3 separate regions of the Homo sapiens genome follow, and all the other regions are linked to region 1. The links come from fine-mapping of genetic effects on gene expression. A gene starts in region 1. Each other region holds a variant in brackets. All regions are shown on one strand. Distances are from middle to middle.

Evidence for each region. PIP is the estimated chance that this variant, and not a neighbour inherited with it, causes the effect. A credible set is the group of variants that fine-mapping cannot tell apart.
Region 2: its variant is the best candidate, but not a certain one, in a credible set for the expression of CLDN18 in esophagus muscle (GTEx, PIP 0.54).
Region 3: its variant is the best candidate, but not a certain one, in a credible set for the expression of CLDN18 in thyroid (GTEx, PIP 0.72).

Annotation. Positions count from the first base shown.
Region 1 is chr3:138,008,200-138,012,438 of GRCh38, reverse strand. It overlaps CLDN18 (claudin 18), which reads right to left and starts at 2,274. Exons shown (of 5, transcript NM_016369.4): 1 at 1,994-2,274. The coding sequence starts at 2,213.
Region 2 is chr3:138,072,253-138,076,491 of GRCh38, reverse strand. The region is part of intron 11 of DZIP1L (DAZ interacting zinc finger protein 1 like); the gene reads left to right. Among named protein-coding and RNA genes, the nearest start is that of DZIP1L, 41 kb to the left of the region's middle. The variant G/A (reference allele first, on the strand shown) is at 1,920.
Region 3 is chr3:138,113,892-138,118,130 of GRCh38, reverse strand. It overlaps DZIP1L (DAZ interacting zinc finger protein 1 like), which reads left to right and starts at 2,523. Exons shown (of 16, transcript NM_173543.3): 1 at 2,523-2,803. RefSeq lists enhancers at 2,211-2,710, 2,711-3,212 and a silencer at 2,869-3,088. The variant T/A (reference allele first, on the strand shown) is at 2,467.

The sequences.
Region 1 (4,239 bases):
GTTAGGAAGGCTTGGTGTCAGGCTGTTATGTGTGCACCTAGTTAAGCTGGGAATGGGGAACCGTGGAAGTTGTTTGGGTTTTGAAATGTCTAAGGAGATGAGAACTGAGAACTAGGAGTTGGTGACTGAAATACTCCCCTTCATCCTCTGCTATGGTCAAAAAAGCAAACATTCTATAGAGATGAAGGATAGAAACCAGACTGAGAAAGGTTAAGGGTGAGAGGTAGTGGAAAAACTTAGTCTTTTAATTTGGTTTGTCAGTGACCCAGGAGAGAGACAGAACTTGACAATGATCAGGATCAACAGATTTCCCCAGGAAGGAGGCCATATGCATAAGTGAGGAGAAGAGATGAAAGAGGCAAGGAGGAGAGGGGCTGACCAACAGGGCATGATCCCAGACAGGTGGCATGAGGCCTTCAGAGCCCTGCTGGGGAGGTTGACCTTAGCAGGAGAGGTTGACCTTAGCAGGAAAGCAGGGAAGATAATCTTGTTCCATCAAGGGGGAGAGGTGGAGCTATTCTGAGAGGGTGTCATGGAGATAAGATCCGTTGACAGAATAGGAGTGACAAGTCACAGTGGACGCAATGGGGTTTGCCCATTTAGGAGAGTGGGAATATTCAGGAGCCCCATGTATGGAGACTGTGATACACAGTGAGCAAGAGATTGATAATATGTAGTGGGGCCCTGGGGAGAGGTTATTGAACATGAAGTCATAAGACATCATGCCTTAATTTTGAATATGAGGACAATATTTTTTCTTTATATGATAGTTAAAATTAGACATAACTAGCAACTCAACACTCTGTGTGGCATTTCCTGCATCTCACCTCTCCCCTCCCACTACAGCATAATCCCTCCTCAGTCTGGTTCTCTTTCTTTTGGCCAGGTTCTACCTCCCTTGCTTCCCTAAGCAGGTCTTTCCCCGGAGTCAGTCATCCTGTTGGTCCTGCAATAAGTGGCTTCCAAAAAATGGAATAAATAATCAAATTCTTCTACTCTGACACCCATCTTCTATTTCTTTCTGAAAATGAACTTGGATTAGTTGAATTGCTTTTCACAATTCAATTCAGTTTCAAGGGCTCTACAGCCTCTTCACAATTTCTTGCAAATTTATTTCCATCTACTTGTTTATAAAAGGTATTTGTTTCAGAGACATTGTTCTCCTTTCTCCATCACACTCACATCTTGGCCACCCCTTAGAGCCACTAATTAGCTAGAGCTATTATTTTCTTGTTTGCATTTTAAAAATACAAATAGAGCTCCCATATTATTCAGAATGCAAAGTTGCTATGATGCATATTTGAAGTAATTATCTATATTAAAAGCAGGGGTTTAATTTATTTCATCTTTAGGGGTGAAAGGATGTCACATTTATAATTATATTTATATTCTGACATAATATAATTATAATTCTGTAATTATATTTTGATATACATTGATTTTTAGGACAGTATACAAGATATTCTTAATACAAATGCAGCAAAAGGATATTTATAATTTAATGGCAATATTCTTTTTGGCACCCACAGAGACTCCAACTTTGAAAAATTTAATTGAAATGGAAAGAAAATTAAATTAGCTCTCAATAAACTTTTCCAGATATAACAAAATACTCAGCATCCTGCTTCCCTGCTCCCATGTATGTGCAGGCAGGAGCAAGCCACATGCAAGTAATGCACACAATTTATTTTCTCCTTGAGAAACACGAGTTTATTCCAGGTATCATGAACATACCCTTACAATAGACCCATTCTTCTTGAGGCCTGCCTCCTCACTAGCGATTCCTTCGCCTTGAGTATTAACCCTCCCATTTTCTCCTGCATGACTGTTGCCCTATTAGACACGAGCCAGCTTCTCCTTTTATTCACACCTTTCATTCTGAGCCAGAGCTGCCAGGGTCCTCACCCAGAGGTGGGAGTGGGGCTTAACGCAAACGCCCCCTTCCCTGCTCACCTGGTTCACCTGGCTCTACCCCGGGGTGCACGGTGCCTACCTGGAAGTCCCAGGATGGTGAAATAGGGCCTGCATTCGGTGAAGCCTGAACTCTGCCTCACGCAGCTCCTCCAGAGCCCTTCGTACTGGAACACGGAGGTGACGGGGTTGTCGTACAGGTCCTGGGTGCTCCACATGTCCATCCCGGTGGCCGCGATGCAGCCGGCCAGCCCCAGGATGGACAGGAGGAACGCCACCACTTGGCATGTGGTGGTGGACATGATCCTGGCCGCCCGCCCTGCCGCCTGCGAGAAGCTGCCGCCCTCCTGCTGCCGAAGGTGTGAAGCTAACGCGCTCCTGAGGGGAGCTCTTCTAATCAGATGGTTTCCCTAGGCTCTCAGTATTTGCTCACAGTGTTTTCCTTAGATAGCTCAGTTTCGCTCCTGGTTCAAGGGCATTATTTTTACATTTGTTAGAGAAGCGGGCCCAAGAGGCACTTGTCTGCTCTCCGCAGGCCGGGTGGGTTCAGCGCAGAGCCGTGCCAGGGAGCAGAAGGACTCCCTGCTCCGGGCCAGACCGGCCTCCCTCCAGCTCCGGCTCCTCCGGAGAGCGCCGCCATCTGGAGAAAAGGCTGACGTGTCCCCACCACGGGGAACGTGACTGCAGACCACTTTGGCTGACCTCGCTTAAGATGGCCCCTGGGAAGCACCCACCGTGCTCTGTCTTAAACCAGACTTTTCACATTTTCTCCTCACAACTCATGAACGACTTTTTTCACTTACATCTTTCCATTTTGATCTTACAGAAATGGGTAGGGCAGGCACTATTATCCCCATTTTTTGGGGGTGAGTCAAGAAAAGTACAGATAAGTTAAGGGACTTGTCCCAGTGCCTGGAACCACAGATACTCTAAAAACGGCAGGGGTGGGGCTCCCACCTCAGCTTCCAGTCCAGCGCTCTTTCTCTGTTTCCATATGGAGCAGCAGGGGCAGGCAAAATTGTCCCCACTTTTGAGAACACGAAGCCAAATCCTAGATCTATGCTCTTGGTCCATAAGCATTGGAACTGGGATGAGAGGAAGCCAGGGACCCCGTTGATTTCCATGTCATGCTTTCACTCGTGCCACAAGAACCACATGAGGACTCTGTGGCTGACACAGGAGGTCCCACAAAGGCCAGAGGAGGGACCAGGGTTAGCTGGGCTGAAGTCCTTGGCCTGGTCACGGAGAGGCTTAGGATCTGCTCCTGATGCTGCCCCTAACTTGTCGTGTGCTGGGCAGGTTGGGGGCAAACTCCTAAGCCCTTGTAGGTCACAGGTTCTTCATCCACAACATGTGAGATCTAAACTAGAACACTCCAGAGCCTTTTCAGATCTCATACACTATCTTCTACATTTTGCAGAAAAGTTTTCACTAGAATTGGTCAAAATATTAGGAATTGTATAATCACAGTAGAGAGACTTGGCTGAAGACATCAGGTGTTATGTTTTGTCTATACAACTAAATTTTGCTAGAGAATTGGTTGACGGATATGGGGGCCAGGTATGTCTGGCCTCTGAATCCAGAGACTTTTTAAAAATTTTTTGAGATGGAGTCTTGCTCTGTTGCCCAGACTGGAGTGCAGTGTTGTCATCGGGGTCACTGCAAATTCTGCCTCCTGGGTTCAAGCAATTCTCATGCCTCAGCCTCCAGAGTATTTGGAACTATACATGCATACCACCACACCCGGCTAATTTTTATGTTTTTAGTAGAGACAGGGTTTCACCATGTTGCTTACGCTGGGCTCGAATTCCTGAGCTCAAGTGATCTGCTTATCTTGGCTTCCCAAAGTGCTGGGATTACAGGCGTGACTCACTGTGCCTGGCTTCCAGATATATTTTGTTTTTATTTATTTATTTATTTATTTTGAGAGGGAGTCTCACTCTGTCGCCCAGGCTGGAGTGCAGTGGCGCAATCTTGGCTCACTGCAACCTCCACCTCCTGGGTTCAAGCGATTCTCCTGCCTCAGCCTCCTGACTAGCTGAGATTACAGGCGCCTGCCACCACACCCAGCTAATTTTTGTATTTTAGTAGAGATGGGGTTTCACCATGTTGGTCAGGCTGGCCTCGAACTCCTGACCTCAAATGATCTGCCTGCCTCGGCCTCCCAAAGTGCCAGGATTGCAGGCGTGAGCCACTGTGCCCAGCCCTCCGGAGACATTTTAATGACACTCTCCAAAATCTGGACCTCAAGGCCCTGAAACATACACACACACCCACACACACCCCCACACACCCCCACACTCCCCCCCCACATACATACTCCAATCT
Region 2 (4,239 bases), 64 kb before region 1:
GCAATTGCAAATTGTGCTGCTATAAACATGCATGTGTAAGTATCTTTTTCATGTAATGACTTCTTTTCCTCAGTGTAGATACGCAGTAGTGGGATTGCTGGATCAAATGGTAGATCTCCTTTTAGCTCTTTAAGGAATCTCCACACTTTTCCATAGTGGTTGTACTAGTTTACATTCCCACCAACAGTGTAAAAGTGTTCCCTTTTCACCACATCCATGTCAACGTCTATTAATTTTTGATTTTTTGATTATGGCCATTCTTGTAGGGGTGAGGTGGTATCACATTGTGGTTTTGATTTGCATTTTCCTGGTAATTAGTGATGCTGACCATCCCCACTCTGGGAAGCTCCCTCCTCATTTAAGGACAGTCTGGAGTCCTTAGGACCTCCAGTGCTGCTACCCAAGGCTTCTGGGCCCACTCCTCAGCCACTCGTCCTGATCCATTGTCTCCTTGGGTTTGGATTATTCTTGTTTCTCCAGTTCCATGAGGTGTGACCTTAGATTATCTATTTGTGCTCTTTCAGCCTTTTTTTTTGAGACGAATCTCGCTCTGTCACCATGCTGGAGTGCAGTGGTGCGATCTCGGCTCACTGCAACCTCCGACTCCCTGGTTCAAGGGATTTTCCTGCCTTAGCTTCCTGAGTAGCTGGGATTACAGGCACGTGCCACCCCACCCAGTAGAGACGGGGTTTCACCATGTTTGCCAGGATGGTCTCGAATTCCTGATCCACCCACCTCGGCCTCCCAAGGTGCTGAGATTACAGGCGTGAGCCACCGCGCCAGGCCGCAGACTTTTTGATGTAAGCATTTAATGCCATGAACTTTCCTCTTAGCACTGCTCTTGCTGTATCCCAGAGGTTTTGATAGGTTGTGTCACTATTATCGTTCAGTCAAAGAACTTTTAAGTTTCCATCTTGATTTCGTTGTTGACCCAACGATTATTCAGGAACAGGTTATTTAATTTCCATGTATTTGCATGGTTTTGAGGGTTTCTTTTGGAGTTGATTTCCAATTTTATTCCACTGTGATCTGAGAGAGTGCTTGATATAATTTCGATTTTCTTAAGTTTACTGAGACTTGTTTTGTGGCCTATCATCTGGTCTATCTTGGAGAATGTTCCATGTGCTGATGAATAGAATATATATTCTGCAGTTGTTGGGTAGAATGTTCTGTAAATATCTGTTAAGTCTATTTGTTCTAGGTTATAGTTTAAGTCTATTGTTTCTTTGTTGACTTTCTGTCTTGATGACCTGTCTAGTACTGTCAGTGCAGTCTTGAAATCCCCCACTATTATTGTGTTGCTGTCTATCTCATTTCTTCGGTCTAGTAGCAATTGTATTATAAATTTGGAAACTCCAGTGTTAGGTGCATATATATTTAGAATTATGATATTTTCCTGTTAGACTAGTCCTTTTATCATTATGTAATGTCCCTGTTTGTCTTTTTTAACTGCTGTTGCTTTAAAGTTTGTTTTGTCTGCTATAAGAATAGCTACTCCTGCTCGCTTTTGGTATCCATTTGCATGGAATGTTTTTTTTCCGCCCCTTTACCTTAAGTTTGTGTGAGTCCTAATGTGAGTTTAGGTGAGTCTTCTGAAGACAGCAGAAACTTGGTTGGTGAATTCATATCCATTCTGCCATTCTGTATCTTTTAAGTGGAATATTTAGGCCATTTACATTCAATGTTAGTATTGAGAGGTGAGGTACTATTCTATTCATTGTGCTATTTGTTGCCTGAATACCTTGCCTTTTTTTTTTTTCGTGTATTATTGTTGTATAGGTCCTATGAGATTTATGCTTTAAGGAGGTTCTGTTTTGTTGTATTTCATGGATTTGTTTCTGTATACATGTGTAACAAACCTGCATGTTGTGCACATGTACCCTAAAACTTAAAGTATAATAAAAAAATAAATTAAAAAA[G/A]AAGATTTAGAGATCCTTTTAGCAGTTCTTGTAGTGCTGGCTTGGTAGTGGCGGATTCTCTCAGCATTTGTTTGTCTGGAAAAGACTGTATCTTTCTTTCATTTATGAAGCTTAGTTTCACTGGATACAAAATTCTTGGCTGATAATTGTTTTGTTTAAGGAAGCTAAAGAATAGGACCCCAATCCCTTCTAGCTTGTAGGGTTTCTGCTGAGAAATCTGCTGTTAATCTGAGAGGTGTTCCTTTATAGGTTACCTGGTGCTTTTGCCTCACAGCTCTTATGATTCTTTCCTTCATCTTGACTTTAGATAACCGGTTGACTATGTGCTTAGGTGATGATCTTTTTGCAATGAATTTCTCAGGTGTTCTTTGAGCTTCTTGTATTTGGATGCCTAGGTCTCTAGTAAGGCTGGGGAAGTTTTCCTCAATTATTCCCTCGAAGATGTTTTCAAGCTTTTAGATTTCTCTTCTTCCTTGGGAATAACAATTATTCTTAGGTTTGGATGTTTAACATGGTCCCAAGCTTCTTGGAGACTTTGTTCATTTTTTTAAAATTCTTTTTTGTCTTCTATGGATTGTGTTAATTCGAAAGCCTTGTCTTTGAGCTCTGAAGTTCTTTCTTCTGCTTGTTTGATTCTATTGCTGAGACTTTTCAGTGTATTTTGCATTTCTCTAAGTGTGTTTTTGATTTCCAGAAGTTGTGATAACTTTTTATTTATGCTATTTCACTAAAAAATTTTCCTTTCATCTCTTGTATAACATTTTTTGTTTCTTTAAGGTGGGCTTCACCTTTCTTTGGTCCCTCCTTGATTAGCTTAATAATTGACCTTCTGAATTCTTTTTCTGGCAATTCAGAGATTCGTCTTGGTTTGGATCCATTGCTGGTGAGCTGGTATGATTTTTGTGGGTGTTAAAGAACCTTGTCTTGTCATATTACCAGAATTGTTTTTCTGGCTCCTTCTCATTTGGGTAGACTATGTTAGAGGGAAGATCTGGGATTCAAGAGCTGCTGTTCAGATGCTTCTGTCCCATGGGGTGCTCCCTTGATGTAGTGCTCTCCCCCTTCCCCTAGGAATGGGGCTTCCTGAGAGCTGAACTGTAGTGATTGTTTTTGATCTTCTGGGTCTAGCCACCCAGTAGAGTTACAGGCTGGTACTGGGGAGTGTCTGCAAAGAGTCCTGTGATGTGATCCATCTTCAGGTCTTGCAGCCGTGGATACTATTCCAGCACCTGCTCCAGTGGAGGTAGTAGGGGAGTGAAGTGGACTCTTGAGGGTCCTTGTTTTTTCTTTTTGTTTGTTTAGTGCATTGGTTTTGTGTTTGTTGGCCTCCAGCTAGGAGGTGGTGCTTTCAAACTGTGGTCCTATAGGGAGGATGCATACTTCCCTACTTGCCCTAGGGACACCTGGTTAAGTATTCAGGTTTCTCAGGCGGTGGGCAGGGCCATACAGCTCCTAAGGGATTATGACCTTTGTCTTCAGCTACCAGGGCGGGTGCAGGAAGACCACCAGGTGGGGCCAGGGATAGACGTGTCTGAGCTCAGCCTCTCCTTGGGTGTGGCTTGCTGCAGCTACTGTTGGGGATGAGGGTGTGTTCCCAGTCCAATGGAGTTATATTCCCAGGGGGATTATGGCTGCCTCTGCTGAGTCATACAGGTCGCCAGGGAAGTGGGGGAAATCTGGCAGTCACAGGCCTCAGCCCATCTCCACGCAGCCTGCGGTCCTAAAGTCCGGTCTCACTCGCACTGTGCCCCACCAACAGGAGCAAGTCTATTTCCAAGCAGCCAGTGACCAGGGCTGGGAACTTGCCCCAGACCACAAACCTCCCCATTGAGAAAGCAAGCAGACTCAGGTTTTCGGCATCTCAGGGAGTCTGCAGCAGTGATCCAGTTCCTTTACAGGGTCTATGGATTCTCTCTCCAACTAGTATTTGAATGCCATTGTGCTTAACCAGAACACGTATGTTATTATTAGAAGCACCAATGAAATCTATTATTAAATAAAAACACACCTATTATTAAATTAGCCAAGCATTACACTATTGGAATGCTGTTTGTGTAGAGTAAGTTAGAAAAAAAAAATAGACAACTAGGGTTATTTTAGGAAGAATGGTCACTACTTTGATTGTTTTCAACTACTGACTACTCTAACTTTGGCCCTATATTCAGATTTGATTAAGACATTCCTTTCTAACCTTGCATGAATCCTCATCTTGGATTCAGATGCCTCCCTGGACCCTCCCATGGGCTCTGGGTGGATGTCAAAAGCTCGAGCAACTTCCAATAGGTCTTGAAAGGGTACTTGGATTGTGTTTACAGCAGTT
Region 3 (4,239 bases), 110 kb before region 1:
CTCTTGTGGGTGGCAGAAAATCCTGGGGTGAAAAAAGTGCCCTGACTAGGAGAAGACGGCAGGAACAAGATCCCCCATCCGAATACATGGTGCACAGATATCCCAACTTAGTCCTGGTCCCTGCTCCATCCACTATTTTTTTTTAATGTTTAAAAAATTGTGATAAACTGTACATAATGTAAAATTTGCCATCGTAACCATTTTCAAGTGTACAATTCAGTGGCATTAAGTACATTCACATTATTGTGCAACCATCACTACCATTTATCTCTGGAACTTTTTCATCATTCCCAAACTGAGAATCTGTACTCATGAATCAATAACTACTCATTCCCCCTCCTCCAGCCACTGGTAACCACTATTCTACTTTCTGTCTCTGTGAATGGACTATTCTAGGTACAAGTGGAATCATACAATATTTCCAGGTATAAGTGGAATAATACAATATTTGTCCTTTTGTGTCCAGCTTATTTCATTTAGCATAATGCTTTTGCCTTGATCTGAATGTTTGTGTCCCTGCAAAATGGGGTTGAAATCCTGACCCCCAAGGTGACGGTATTGGGAGGTGGGGCCTTTGGGGGGTGGTTAGGTCATGAAGGTAGAGTCCTCATAATTGGGACTAGTGCCCTTATGAAAGAAACCCCAGAGAGCTAGCCAGCCCCCTTCTACTAAGTGAGGGTGCAGTGAGAAGATGACAGCCTATCAACCAGGAAACAGGCCCTCACCAGGCACCGAATCTGCCAATGTCTTGATTTTGGACTTCCCAGCCTCCAGAACTGTAAGAAAAAAACTTCTATTGTTTATATGCTACCCACTCAATGGTATTTTGTTATAGCAGCCTGAATAGACTAAGACAGTTTTCAAGGTTCATTCATGTGTCAGAATTTCCTTCCCTTTTAAAGTTAATATTACATTGTATGGATATACCACATTTTGCTTATCCATTAATCTGTCGATAGACATTTGAATTGTTTCCACTTTTTGGCTATTGTGAATAATGCTATTATGAACATGAGTATACAAATATCTGTTTGAATCCCTGCTTTCAGTTCTTTGGGGTATATACCCAGAAATGGAATTGTTGGATCTTTTGGCAATTCTTGTTTAATTTTTTGAGGAACTACCATTCTGTATCCACAGTAATGGTACCATTTTACATTCCCACCAGCAATGCACAGGAGTTCCAGTTTCCCTGCAAGTCCTTGACAACGCTTGTTCCCATACACATTTGCTTTGGCTGCCTCAAAATGTAGAGCTTGGCAGATTGAGATTGTGGTGGGACGAAAGCCTTTGAAATGGAAAAAAGAGAAAGAGGGAGGGAGAAGAGTTGCGGAGTGGAGAGAGAGAGAGTGTGTGTGAAAAGGAGCTTTTTTCCCACTCTTCCCTGACCCTCATGGGGGCTGCAGCGACTCCTAGAACCTTCAAGCAGCGAGACAGAGGTTCCCTCCACCAGGCGCAGAGCTCTCCTTACACCTGGCCTCCTATTCCCAGCAACTTTAAGGAGATATTTTTAAGTGGCCATGGTTTTATCAAATGCCTATTAAGTTTTTGCCACAAAAGGATTTTATTTAAAATAAAAATAGGGGTAGGTATTTGACTGATGCCCCTTGTGAGTGCTCTAGAGAAGAGGAATGAATACTGACATGTCCTATCTTCCCAGATGCAGAATTGTAAAACAAACATAACTGCTTTTCACATGTGAAAGAAAACTGGCTTAGAACATACTAGCGTTTTCTTTGCCATGAAGGAGTTCACCTTCAGTGACTAAGCCAGAACTACTAGAGTTGCCGGGCCTAGGGACAGGAGACATTGCCAGTGCTTAGCCAGGCTGGCCAGGACTAACCATCTCTGCAAGGAGTCCACAAGAAGCCTCAGGGCAGCCTTTCCCTGCTCCTATCAATTTGAGTTGAGCAACAAACATTTTGACCAAATATCAGCTCTATGGCACAACTCACAGTTACGGTGCCCACAAAACGGAATCTCAGCAAAGCAACTACTACTATGGGAAGAGATCAGGGACTAATATCAGGAGAAAAAATAAGTTTTTCAGTCCTGGGTTTCCAAGTTGGCATCCCCAGGGCAAACCAGCAGGTTGGGAGGGTAGGGGGTGGTGGGTGGGGGCTGCGGAGGGAAGGTGGCTGCTGTCTGTCTGATCAGACCTGGGGCACACCCAAAGAACTCTCCTAGCTTGGGATCCGGTCAGGAAGAAACCAGGACGGTCCCTTTAGGAGGGTGGGCAGGGCTATCTGCCCGGGGGGTGCGGCCGCCCCTGCACAGCAGGCTATCGATTGTACCGGAGGCAGGGTGTGGGGAAACCGGGGCAAGTCCAGCCTCTCAGCAAGGCCAGGAAGCCATTCACTTGGATCCTGGATTTTACTAACGGATTAAACGTGGCATTCCCGCCTTCCCCCATCCGTTACAGACCTAAAAATAGCTCGTCCGAGAGGGGCCGGGAGAGGCTCCACC[T/A]CTTCTTGAGGTGGGGCGGGGCGGCTGTAGTAGGAGCTGGAGGCACCAGAGACCCCAAGCCACGAGCTGACCGACGCACCGAGGAGCTCTCTGTCCGCGGTCCCGCAGGTTGGCGGCACTGGAGTGGGCCGGGCAGGCTCTGCCTCCGCCGCAGAGAGCGCCCGGACTGCGTGGGGCTGGGGAAGCATCCCGGGAACGGCGGGCGGTGAGCATTCCGGGAACCATCTCTGGGCTGTCTGGGGCGGTGGAGCAAGTCTGGAGGCGGGACGTGGGGCGAGTATGGGAGCCGCCACCTCGAGACGTCTTCCCGCCGTCCCCGGCTCCAGGAGACCCCACGGTGAGCGGGCCGCGCGGGAAAACTATGCCAGGAATTCGTCCCGGGAGCGGGGCGGGTGGGTAGCTTGGCTGCAGTCCGAGGGATCAGCGATTCGGGAGGTTAAACATTAGCGGGGGCGAACTCCCTGCCGGGGTGCAGCGGGGCGCGGGAGGAGCCGGCTGCGTGCGTCCGCGCTGCCCAGGGCGCGCCCTTCTGGCCCGGCGCGGCCCTGCAGCCCGGCCCCCTCGGCCTGCTCCGAACTGCGGCGCCCAGGGAGGGAAGGACCCGTGCGCGGGGGACGAATGACGGGATGCCCCAAGACTCGGCTTCACTGGGAAGACGGCCTTGGGTTTTTACTTTTTGAAAAAAGAAAAGTGATTTGGGAGGGCTTGATGATCTGAGTGCCGTAGGTAAAGGAGGATTCTTTTAGTAATGAGGTGATTTAAAAGCAATCGCATTGGCATCTTTCGTTCCCCTTCTTCCTTTCCTGGGCTGGACCTCAGCAGGAGGCAGACGTGGTATTTTCATCCTGAGGTGGCTGCGCATAAAGTCCACCGAAGACCTGCTCAGTGCAGGACAGGGATCAGGAGGCAGGGCAGAGGAGGGGGTCCGAGGCTGCCTGGGCAGGGCCTAGTTCACGGAGCACTTCCTAGGGGCCCAGGGCCTAGGCTGCCCCTGCCTGGTCTCCTGGAATTCGATTTCTAACAGGACTTTGGAGAGAGGCCTGGGAAGTATGGGGTGTTCTGACTTGGCTTCTCACACCCTCATCTGCAGATAGGGTGGGTGATCTCTCCCTTCTCAGTTGCAGCCCCTAGCACCTCTCCTCCCCCTCCCGGATGTGAGGACTGGCCAGTGAGAACAATCCTGCTTAGGGAAGGCTGATCCTCCAGTCTAGTGGCTGATAAGGGGCCTTCTGACTGTCTTGGTCAGACACCTCCCTCATCTGGGAATATTTTTTGATACTATCTAACTTGATAAAATACCTCATGAAGTTGTATGCTTCAGGTTGGGAACAGAAACCTGAGTTCATGTGGGCACCATAACTGTGGGTTGTGCCATGGAGCTGATATTTGGTCAAAGGTTTTTTGCTCAACTCAAATTGATAGGAGCAGGGAAAGGCTGCCCTGAGGCTTCTTGTGGACTCCTTGCAGAGATGGTTAGTCCTGGCCAGCCTGGCTAAGCACTGGCAATGTCTCCTGTCCCTAGGCCTGGCAGCTCTAGTAGTTCTGGCTTAGTCACTGAAGGTGAACTCCTTCATGGCAAAGAAAACGCTAGTATGTTCTAAGCCAGTTTTCTTTTACATGTGAAAAGCAATTATGTTTGTTTGTTTTACAATTCTGCATCTGGGAAGATAGGACATGTCAGTATTCATTCCTCTTCTCTAAAACACTCCCAAGAGACATCAGTCAAATACCTACCCCTATTTTTATTTTAAATAAAATCCGTTTGTGGCAAAA